Linked DNA regions of Homo sapiens. The protein of the gene in region 1 interacts with the protein of each later gene in a pairwise test. Each region holds a gene or a part of one and is shown in the gene's direction. Other genes may lie near its edges. The genes, in order: CD33, RPRM and THSD7A.

Region 1 (3,749 bases):
AAGACCCCATCTCTCCTAAACATAAAAACAAAAAGTTACTCCGGCCTGGTAGTATGAGCCTGTGATCCCAGCTACTAGAGAGGATGACGTGGGAGAGTCACTTGAGTCTGGGAGGTCAAGGCTGCAGTGAACTGTGGTCAGGCCGGTGCACTCCAGCCTGGGCAACAAAGCAAGACCCTGTCTTAAAAAAAAAAGCACTAAATGTATTGAATTTTCTATTACGTGCCACATGCTAAATATTTAAATAACTTACAACAGATATTATTTACTGGAGACTTAATTTGTTGTATATCAAATGAGGATGCAGCTACCTCTCTATTAGTAAGGATGAATGAAGAGTTATCTAGATACTATTGTGTGTAGAGATTTGACAAAGGTATGGTGGCAAGTACTAATATGTCCCAGGGATCAACGGTTTGCTGGATGCATACTACACAGAGTGATATGGAAAACCATGTAGCTGGACCTAAAGTTTAATTTTCTCTGTACACTCCACTCATGTTGTCTGGAAATATTATGTCTTTGGGCCATATTTAACTGTGAGAAGCAGATTTTTACATGAAAGAAAATGTTGATCCATATGATGAGCCTCTAAAAAAACTTGCTTCTGCCCACACTGAACCAAATGGCAGCATGAATGGAAAAGAAGTTTTTTCTGCACTGGTTCATAGAACATGTGTTCTCCCTTTTGTTTCACAGGAAGATGCTGCATGGTTCTTGTTTTGGAGATGTCATTGACACTGTGCAAATCAGTGTACTAGGTGCCAGGGGAAAATTCTATAGTCATATTTCTTTTAAAATTTCCAATATGCTACCATGATACATGGCAAATTCCCAACTTTTCACAGCTCTAAAGCCAGACAGCATGTGTGTGTGTGGTGAGGACATGAGGCTATGGATGGGGAGTATCTTAAGGGCAGGAATCAGGTCAGTGGCATCTCTTCTCAAGCCCCACCTATACACAAAGGCTCACTGTAAGAATTAAAGAAAGAGGAAAGAAACACGAATGGTGGCTCACCAGTCAAGACAGATTTTAGAGAAAACAAACCTGAGAGGAGTTTCTGGCCGAGTTAAGTCAGAGGCACACTCTCTTACAGACTAAGAGTTTTTAAGGATTTAGGGTGGGAGAGTTTATCAGAGACTTGGACTGCTTCTGAGTCTCTTTGTTGTGCTTATCTGGGAGAGAGAGGTGTGTGTCTGTACCCATACATCTTTCTGCAGCTACAGGCATACCCACTGAGTCTGCTTTTAGCTTCCCTATCTTAGTGCACCTGAAGGGAAAGGAATTTGCTTATTAAGGCCCACTGTTTTACTAGGGCCATTGTATGAGGGTGAAGTTTGGCAGTAACTCAAGAGACTCTCCCCCTACCTCCCTCTGTGCCCGAGCTGTCTTATCTGTGTTTCACTGTCTGCTCTTTCTGGTTGCTTGTAGTTAGCAGAGAAGTGATTTCCTTGAAATGCATGAGGCTAGAAAGGAAATTGGAACTTAAAGAGGCAGTGTTTCTCCGAGATGACGGTGCTCCTGCTCTGTCACTCACTATATCTTTAGTGAATGAATGAATAAATGAATGGCTGCCACCTTCACTTTACCTAGGACTCTTCTTTGTTTCTCTGCCCCAGACACTCACACGGACCCTATAGAATCCTATATCCTGCTGGACTAAACACCCCATGGATCTAGGTGAGGCTGCGACTCGGGCCAGGCCAGCAGTGATCAGCCCTGGTGTAAACAGTTGTGCACAGAAAAGCACCTCAGAGTGGAAGGACTTTAGACATGGGGTTCGCATGTCTCAGATGGCCCTGAAGGTACTGATCCAGGCTCTGGTGCTCCTGGAAGGCAAGACTCAGATTCTGCTCCATCTCCTCCCATCTCTGGGCGGGTCTCTGGCATCTCTGGCCCATGAGGGTCAATCTGTGTGGAGGGGACAAGCTCTGAGCATGTGTGGGTCTGAGGTTCCTCTTCCATGCAGGGCTGAGGTCTCCTGCTCCTCCCCAGCTTCCTGTCCGGCCCTGTAGTCCTTCCCCTCCACTCCCTTCCTCTTTTCTGCTCACACAGGAAGCCCTGGAAGCTGCTTCCTCAGACATGCCGCTGCTGCTACTGCTGCCCCTGCTGTGGGCAGGTGAGTGGCTGTGGGGAGAGGGGTTGTCGGGCTGGGCCGAGCTGACCCTCGTTTCCCCACAGGGGCCCTGGCTATGGATCCAAATTTCTGGCTGCAAGTGCAGGAGTCAGTGACGGTACAGGAGGGTTTGTGCGTCCTCGTGCCCTGCACTTTCTTCCATCCCATACCCTACTACGACAAGAACTCCCCAGTTCATGGTTACTGGTTCCGGGAAGGAGCCATTATATCCAGGGACTCTCCAGTGGCCACAAACAAGCTAGATCAAGAAGTACAGGAGGAGACTCAGGGCAGATTCCGCCTCCTTGGGGATCCCAGTAGGAACAACTGCTCCCTGAGCATCGTAGACGCCAGGAGGAGGGATAATGGTTCATACTTCTTTCGGATGGAGAGAGGAAGTACCAAATACAGTTACAAATCTCCCCAGCTCTCTGTGCATGTGACAGGTGAGGCACAGGCTTCAGAAGTGGCCGCAAGGGAAGTTCATGGGTACTGCAGGGCAGGGCTGGGATGGGACCCTGGTACTGGGAGGGGTTTAGGGGTAAAGCCTGTCGTGCTTAGCGGGGGAGCTTGACCAGAGGTTGATCTTCTCTCAGGCCCTCACCTGGACCCTCCCTCCTGATTCTGCATCCCCTCTTTCTCCTCACTAGACTTGACCCACAGGCCCAAAATCCTCATCCCTGGCACTCTAGAACCCGGCCACTCCAAAAACCTGACCTGCTCTGTGTCCTGGGCCTGTGAGCAGGGAACACCCCCGATCTTCTCCTGGTTGTCAGCTGCCCCCACCTCCCTGGGCCCCAGGACTACTCACTCCTCGGTGCTCATAATCACCCCACGGCCCCAGGACCACGGCACCAACCTGACCTGTCAGGTGAAGTTCGCTGGAGCTGGTGTGACTACGGAGAGAACCATCCAGCTCAACGTCACCTGTAAGTGCTGGGCCAGGATGCTGGGGTCCCTGAGGGTGTAGGGGAGACAGGATGGGCTGGTGCTGGGGACATTTAGTGTCCTGGAGGCCTGGCTGAGTTCGGGAGCCAGAAGGACATGAGCCCTGTCCCTTCTGCATTTCTGTGGTTTCTGGCAGGAGTAAGGGGAAATGCCTACCCTTATCTCATCTCTACCCCCAACTGAAGGAAATCCTCTCTTCCTCTCCTAGATGTTCCACAGAACCCAACAACTGGTATCTTTCCAGGAGATGGCTCAGGTAGGAAGGAGCCTCCCCGCCTGGGGCTGTTACTGACATTGAGTCTGTGTCAGGTTTGGTCAGATCTGGACTTTCAGAGTCAAATGTTCAGAGGCAAGGCCTGCAGTTAGACACGGGTAGACATCAGGCACCTTGGAAAAGGATATTTGGGGATGACTAGCAACTTCCCCCTTGCCCATCCAAATAATGCTCTTTGTCTCCCTCCTGTCTCTGAATGTCTTGGGGTATTTTATTTTTAATTGATATGTAATAATAGTACATATTTATGGATGGCATAGTGATGTTTCCATACTAATAATGTATAGTAATCAGATCAGGGTAATAGCATATCCATCATCTTGAACATTTATTATTTCATTGTTGTTGGGAACATTCAATATCCCCTTTCTAGCTATTTGAAGCTATCTATTATTGTTAAGCATAGTCAT
Region 2 (3,749 bases), on another chromosome or scaffold:
GATCATTTTAACACTGACCTGACGAAAACAGCAATACTGTTCCTAGCAATAAATATACTCAAATTCTGATAATGATTCAACTAACACTTTTAGCATCCTTCCATATTGGATCTTACAAATGTACTATAAACTAACTCTTGGTTTTTGTCACATAAAGAAGGGGCTCTCCATTTGCTTACACCTAACTTCTACTGAACACACAGTTCTGTACAACTTGATCCCTGGAGGTGGGCCTCTGTTCTCTGACCTTTTATTTTTCTAAATTTCTATTACTTTTCTCTACCATTCATCTCAGGATGACTTTATATTGCCTTAAATTTGTTGTAATTTTTTCCATGTATACATTACGTTTTATTATTCTTGAGGACTACCCACATTAACTAAGATAGACTGATTGTATGATGAGATTTAAGTAAATTCTTACTTATCAATTATTAATAAATTTCTTCAAAGAAGAAATTGCCGAGAGTGAGGTATTTTTCAATTCTAATTAAATTATGGGAAACTAGAACAATAAGCCAGTGAATTGTGGTAGAAGCCCAAGCCTGAATTTTCAGCTGTTAAACATCCCCCTCAAAATAATAATAGCTATTTTAAAAAATCAAACTTATTGCAGCTGATATACCATAAATATCAAAAAATTGAAAACTCAACCAGAAGGCATTTCATTCTATTTTATGATAGTCATGAAGCAGTGCAAAAACATTTAAGGAACACTCTGAAGATGGAATAAATGATGTTTTAAGAAACAGAAATAAGAGGATTTACCAAGCAAACAGAATGAAATTAAGAGTAGAGTTGAAAATGGCAAGACAGCTACTATTTTTCAGTTTTATTTTATTTTTAATTGACAACTGTACATATTTATGAGGTACAAAGTGATATTTTGATACACATATACATGTGGAATGATCAAATCAGAGTAATTAGCGTACCCATTATCTCAAATTTTTATCAGTTCTTTGTGGTGAGAACATTTAATAGAAAGTAAATGTATTCTATTGGAAGCTCAAGTTACTGGTTTCCAGCTGTTACAGCTGAAAGAAAGAGGGAGGAAGGCAGGGAGTAATGGGGAAAAGGAGGGAGGGGAAAGAAAACAGAAAAGGGGGAGCGGGAACATGCAATATTCTTTCAGAGTTAAGAAACTTAATCTGACAGGTTTATAGAATTTCGTTGGAACCTAGAGCAAAATCACAATGGCTGAAGCGTCAATCAGGCCTATAAAAACATCTGTGTTTAGTTTAAATGACTAAGGGTGAAATACATCAGCTTATGGAAAATGGGGAGGGCTCCCAGTATTTGGCCAGCGTTCTAGGTGATGGATGTTGATGAGCAATTCCCTTCAACAACTGATTTACTGCCAACGGACAAAATGCTGGAAGCACATCCAAAAACTTATCTGCAATTAAAATTACAAGCAAGTGGTCACTCTGTTCACCTCCTTTACCAGAGAGGTGACCCTGCTCCCGGCAACTACCTCCACCCAAGGGCCACAGAAGAACTCCTCCTTCCTCTAACCCTCTTTCCTTGGCCTCAAACCTCACGGTAAAACCTGCCTTGCTCTGTCTCCCAATCGCTTTTGTAAAGGAAGCTGGGTGTAGAGCTCTTCTTTCTCCCTCCCTTCCTTTTTTCTTTCCTTCCTTCCTTTCTTCCTTCCTTCTTCCATGCCTTTCTGTCTTTCCAAATTCATTGCTTTGTAAGAAACATTCTCAGATCACCTCCACTCCACTAGAAATCCAACGCAGGCGAGTCGGAGTCAAGCACAGGCAGTGGGCGGGTGGCCTCAGCCGGCACCATCTGGCACCTGCGATTCATCGCCACTTTCCATTCGCCCAGAGGTCAGGGGGGCAGCAGGCAAAGGACACGCAGAGCTCGTGTGTCCCAGTTCCTCTGAAACTTTCAGCTGACCGCACCCTCCCCCGACAAACTCTTTAATCATCCATCAAGCTAGAAGAGTACAGTGACCTCTGCCTGGCCTTTGGAGTTTGCAAAAGAAGCAAGCAATAAAAAGCAAGACCAGGTTCGCCCCTTTGCTTCCTCCACCTCCCAAGAGCAGCGCGCAGCGCGGCGGTGCGGCCGGAAGGGGCCGCTGTTTGCTCAGCGCAGCCACCCCGCCGCTGCAGCCGCCGCGGCCCGCACCTCCCACGGCCGGGCTGGTCCAGCCCCGCCAAGTTCCAACAGCCCCCCCTCGAGCGAGCGCCGGGAACGAGCACCACCAGGGCTGGAGCGGACGGCTTTAGAAGAGCCTAGCTGCTGCGCGCGTCGGAGAGGCTCCTGGGAAACTCCCACGGCCCAGGGACTTTCGAAAGCAGAGCGAGGAGCCCTCGCACGCGCTAGTCTGCGAGTGAGCGCTCAGCCCGGCACCTGTTCCTCCAGCGCCGCCGCCTTCCCACCCCTCGGACCCGCGCCGCTCGCGGCGCCCGCCCGTTCCTGCGATGAATCCGGCCCTAGGCAACCAGACGGACGTGGCGGGCCTGTTCCTGGCCAACAGCAGCGAGGCGCTGGAGCGAGCCGTGCGCTGCTGCACCCAGGCGTCCGTGGTGACCGACGACGGCTTCGCGGAGGGAGGCCCGGACGAGCGTAGCCTGTACATAATGCGCGTGGTGCAGATCGCGGTCATGTGCGTGCTCTCACTCACCGTGGTCTTCGGCATCTTCTTCCTCGGCTGCAATCTGCTCATCAAGTCCGAGGGCATGATCAACTTCCTCGTGAAGGACCGGAGGCCGTCTAAGGAGGTGGAGGCGGTGGTCGTGGGGCCCTACTGACCCGCCCTCTGCCCCCGCGGCAACCGCTCCCACGCCTGCCCACTTTGCTAGCCCGGCTGTGCCCCTCACTATCAGAGACTGGGCGAAGCAAACCTGTCGGAGTCAATTATTTCTCTCGACTTCGGCCTTTCGGAAAGAAGCGACCGGTTTCTCCCTCGCCCTCTGAAAGTCCTCATGCCTGGCAGTCGGAGGAGAGCGCCCAGACTCTGAACTCAGCAGAAAGTGGCAAGAAGAGGGCGATTAGGGCGCAGAACTTTGGAAGCTGCTACTTACTTGGAATGCGGGGAGACCGACGGTGCGAAGGCCCTTCTCCACCCGCAGGTGGGCCAAGCTCTGGGGGCAGGTGGAGAGGGCGGGCAGGGGAGAGACCCAGCGGCACTGATCGCCTTGTGACCGGAAGAGTGACCTGTTAAAAGCCACGCAGCAGACTCATGGGGTCTCACAAATCCGTGTCCGGGTGCGCTCCCACTCTTCTCCTGCTCCCCCCCTGCCCTGGAGGGGAGGGGCGATAAATACCTTTGATTGTAACGTGCCGTTTTAAGAGGTTTTGTGTTTGTTTGCTTGAATACAAATGTTTGATAAGTCTTTTTCTGCCCCAGTGGCCTGTTTGCCTGCCTGAGGAGTTACAGTTTTGTCATTGTGGGAGAAGGGGTGGGGGGAGGGGGAGCCTGCGAATTTGAACGGGGTGAGTTGTTTCTTTTAGTGCATTTCCCACTGGGTCTTTTGGGAGGCGTCTAGCGTTCCTGCTGGCCCTGGGACAAAGACCCAGAATAGAACTCGTAGCTCGTGACTGCACGGTTTACGCCACAAAAGTGCTCTTGACATCCGTGACACCGTTTTGACTTTTTGTTTTTTTCTTATTTAACATTTCCTTAATAAATGCAACATTTAAGCGTTTTGTTCCTGGCCTCCTGGTGGTCATTCTGCGCTCCCCAGCAGGGGGGAACGGGGCGGCGGTGAGGAGTCTGGCTCCCGGCCAGGGCA
Region 3 (3,749 bases), on another chromosome or scaffold:
AATTGACCCCGTATAATGCTTGAATTTGTAGCTATGATGTTTACACTCTTGACAAGTTGAGTTATTATTATACCACCATGGGTAAATATAAAGGTCAGAATCTTAAAATTTCTTTTGACAATAAGCTATTAAGTATAGTGTCGGATGGCTTTTTGAAGGGCTAGGTAAATGACCTTGCACATTAACTTAATTCCTCAGACTCTCTGTCCTCTGTTATATAATGAATTCCCACTTGGTGAATTGATTGGCGCTTCCCACGAATGCGTAGAATGGCTGCTGTTAGCAGAGTATGTCCAGTTTGAAATACTTCCTGTGCCAGAGTTAGAGGATTTCAAGGTTTAGGGCACTAACAGTAGCTGAGAAATACAAGCAGAAAGGATGGGAAAATGATTCCTTGTGGAGTGGACATGGAAATTTTCCTGAAACGACAGAACCCAGGAAGCAATAGCAGGTCCCATTTCCTTCTGTGGTGTAACTGTCAAAAGAAGTGATCCTTCAGGGAACCATACATTAGTTAAGATCAGGCTTCCTTTTTATTCCTTATCAACCTATAATCTTTTGATTGTTGCCTGTTTTTCACGAGTGAAGAAATAGTAAGCCACACTAGCTTATCTCTCCTAATCACAGACTCACAGCGCTCGGGCTCTCTGAGCTTTTAATTCCTTCTTAGAGGCCTAACAGAGCGGAAAGTAAACAAAGACCAAATTTGCAACCTTCAACGTAGCTAATTTCCTCTGATGTCAGAATACTTAAACAGGCAGGACCTGGGAATTATTTGATCAAACCCGCTTTTAATCTAATGCATGCAGAGGGGCTGTGTCTGGAAGGCTTTGCAAAATGACAAGGGTCCCAAGGGAGCCTTATGGAAGGTTTCCTCTTTCAGAAAGAGTAGCTTCCTCATCTTAAACTCTAGGGTAGCTATGTTGGAGTAAATTCATAAAAAGTAGTTTTCCTGCTTTTAAAATTTTATTTTATTTGGCTGAAAATTGCTGATGGGATAGTAGTTTTCTTTGGCTTTCCGTTTGCTGAATTTTTAATGGTTAAATGCCTACTATTTTAGCTTTACTGTGAAATGAATTAATAATAAAATATATTATTATTAGCTAAAGGGAGAAGGAGAAAGGGGAAAGCATTATCCGACTTCACACACATTCTTCTATTACTACTGGTAGAAGAAAGTGAAAACACAAAGGACAAAAGATGCAAACACATGTGGTTCCTTATTTAGATTGCGACAGGCATTTTGCTACAGTAAGAGTTAAGAAAAATCGGTGTCAGGGAAATTTTAAATGAAGAATTTACTAATTCCAAGATATCCAGACAGCATTACTGACTCAGTTTGACTCACAACTATCTGAATACTTAGAAGTAGCATATTTTTGAGGGAAAGAAGTAGATGAAGGGACAGAACTCTATACCTGAAATATAATTTTAATTTTAAGGGTTTTTTTTTTGTACAATTGTATTTATGTAATTAGGTAGCATTGCAAATACTCATTAACACTAATTCAGTTTTAAAGGCTATTAAAAGACAATTTAATTTGTCACAGAGCATCAATATTGCTCATATTTTTATTGATAATAGATTAAGTTAAAAACAACATTTAAAGAAGGGTTTAAGTGCATTTTGACAAGTCAACATTTCTGCTCTCGTGTTTTCACACCTGATCTCAAATACTGCTCCCCACACAAAGTAATTCAGAAGCCATGGCTTAAAAATAGATAATAAACACTGATGCTTTGTGTAAATACGTACTAAGAATAGCATGCCACTAGATCTAGCATTTGACTCCTTGGATGACAGTGAATATCAATGCCTGTTATTTGTCATTCTGAAATCTGCCGGGTGATGATTCTTTTTATTGGTGCATCCTTCCAAACATATTTCATCGCACCATGTGCACCGGAGTTCTTTAGGCGGGTATGTCGGAGGTGGGTGTCGCCTGGCTGGCCCCTCTCCCCTTTGCTCGCCCCCTTTCTCGCCCTCGCGCTCTCGCCTCCCTCTGCCTCCAGCCCCCTCTGCTCCTTTGGGCTCACGCCCCCCTCCTCCCCCTCCAGCTGGCGGGGGCTGCGCTGCCTCCCAGACCTAGCAGACCTGCTCAGTCAGCTGGGGCCCCCTGAGGACAGTTGCCTCCGGAGCCGCCGGGACCTGCCATTCTGCGAGGAATGGCAGCGGCAGCAGCATCCCCGCCAGAGGCGGCGGCGGCGGCGGCAGCGGCCACGGCCACCACCGCGGACGCTATTGTTCCCTGGTGTTAGACGCGCTCTCCCTCCTTCTCATCTGAAGCGAACAATAGCAGGAAAGAGCTTTGCTTTCTGTACTCTTTGAAAAGACGTTCCAAGAGCGGAGAAAAATTCCCTGCCGAGCGTGCTACGGCTCTGGACCCTGGAGTGGCTGCAGGCGGCATGGGGCTGCAAGCCAGGCGCTGGGCGTCCGGGAGCCGGGGCGCTGCGGGGCCGCGCCGGGGCGTCCTGCAGCTGCTGCCGCTGCCGCTGCCGCTGCCGCTGCTCCTGCTGCTGCTGCTACGCCCGGGCGCCGGCAGGGCTGCGGCGCAGGGCGAGGCGGAGGCGCCCACCCTCTATCTGTGGAAGACTGGTAAGTGGGACGGAGTTACCCTTTCCCCATCTTCACATCTGGGGCCACATTAAGGAGCTGGTGGGCTTCTGTAGGGACCCCGGTGCTTTTGGATGGCTTGGTTATGCTGGTATCCTAAGGTAAAAAGTATGATTTCTTAGGAAGCAAATAGGTCATGTCCGATGCAATTAGGAAAGAAAAGCATAACAACTAAGAGGCAACAGTGAGTAGCTGGAATATTTCTCTCGCAGCTCTGTAATGAGGGCAACGCGCACTTCCATGATGAAGTGCATTATTTTTAACCCCTGGATTTTCATTCTACTAGGAGTTTCTCAAACAGATTTCTAGCAAAGAACAAGCAAAGAGTTTAGTCTCAGTCTTTATTCTTTAGGCAAAGCAATATGCTCACTGTCATGACATTTGTGGATATAGAGTTGAATTTGTTAACTTTAGCTTTGTGATATGTGGGACACCTCAGAAACAAGCCAAGTGAGGGCGGTTCCAACAATTAAAGGCAAATGGGGCTCCAGTGAGCCTTCAGGGAAAGACTGAAAACTCAATTATTAACTAGCGAGTCGGAGGATTTTTAAAGTGTACAACTTTTAGGATGTCTGGGTTCAAACTTTCTCTTCCTTCCTTGAGAATTGTTTTGCTTTGTTTTTCAACCACCCAACAAAAGCAGCTACTAACTGCCCATCATTACCCATTGGCAAAATGCTTGGAGTTTCTGGCGGGGGCCGTGACAGGCAGGAAAACAATACGGAGTGAGGAATTACCAACCCCTTTTCTGCGGGTTCGCTTTCTCTCTGCATTAAAAAAACATTGAGAATTCCTTAGGGGACCTGAAACTTCACATGTTCATAGGAATAAAATGGGAAAAGATTATTCCTGTTGCTTAGAGCTAGGGGGTAATTTAAGAATAACTTGGTCATGCCAAACATTAAGAGAATGTTGTAGTTGAAAGGGAAAGTATGTATTCGTCATGGGGTTGCAAACAGGTTTCAGGGAGTGAGTGTCTTTTCCTGCTTCAGCCCATCTCTGCACCACTACTGAAGAGACAGCTCAGTCTACTCTACAATTGCATCACTATCGATATCTGGAATTTTTAAAGAAGTTGCAGCTATCCAGAAATTTAGTGAGGAGATTAAACAGAAATTTATTTAAAGTCAAAGTA

What was found.
Region 2: the proteins of CD33 (region 1) and RPRM interact in binary tests that used the Homo sapiens proteins (3 or more experiments, as listed by UniProt).
Region 3: the proteins of CD33 (region 1) and THSD7A interact in binary tests that used the Homo sapiens proteins (3 or more experiments, as listed by UniProt).

What each region holds. Positions count from the first base shown.
Region 1 is NC_000019.10:51,223,036-51,226,784, forward strand, and holds the start of CD33 (myeloid cell surface antigen CD33 isoform 1 precursor), read left to right. Parts: upstream 1-2,044; 5' UTR 2,045-2,056; coding exon of another isoform or gene 2,057-2,083; coding exon 2,084-2,120; intron 2,121-2,182; coding exon 2,183-2,563; intron 2,564-2,767; coding exon 2,768-3,046; intron 3,047-3,273; coding exon 3,274-3,321; intron 3,322-3,749. UniProt on the Homo sapiens protein: Sialic-acid-binding immunoglobulin-like lectin (Siglec) that plays a role in mediating cell-cell interactions and in maintaining immune cells in a resting state.
Region 2 is NC_000002.12:153,477,252-153,481,000, reverse strand, and holds RPRM (protein reprimo), read left to right. Parts: upstream 1-2,238; 5' UTR 2,239-2,435; coding exon 2,436-2,765; 3' UTR 2,766-3,663; downstream 3,664-3,749. UniProt on the Homo sapiens protein: May be involved in the regulation of p53-dependent G2 arrest of the cell cycle. Seems to induce cell cycle arrest by inhibiting CDK1 activity and nuclear translocation of the CDC2 cyclin B1 complex.
Region 3 is NC_000007.14:11,830,604-11,834,352, reverse strand, and holds the start of THSD7A (thrombospondin type-1 domain-containing protein 7A precursor), read left to right. Parts: upstream 1-2,154; 5' UTR 2,155-2,406; coding exon 2,407-2,596; intron 2,597-3,749.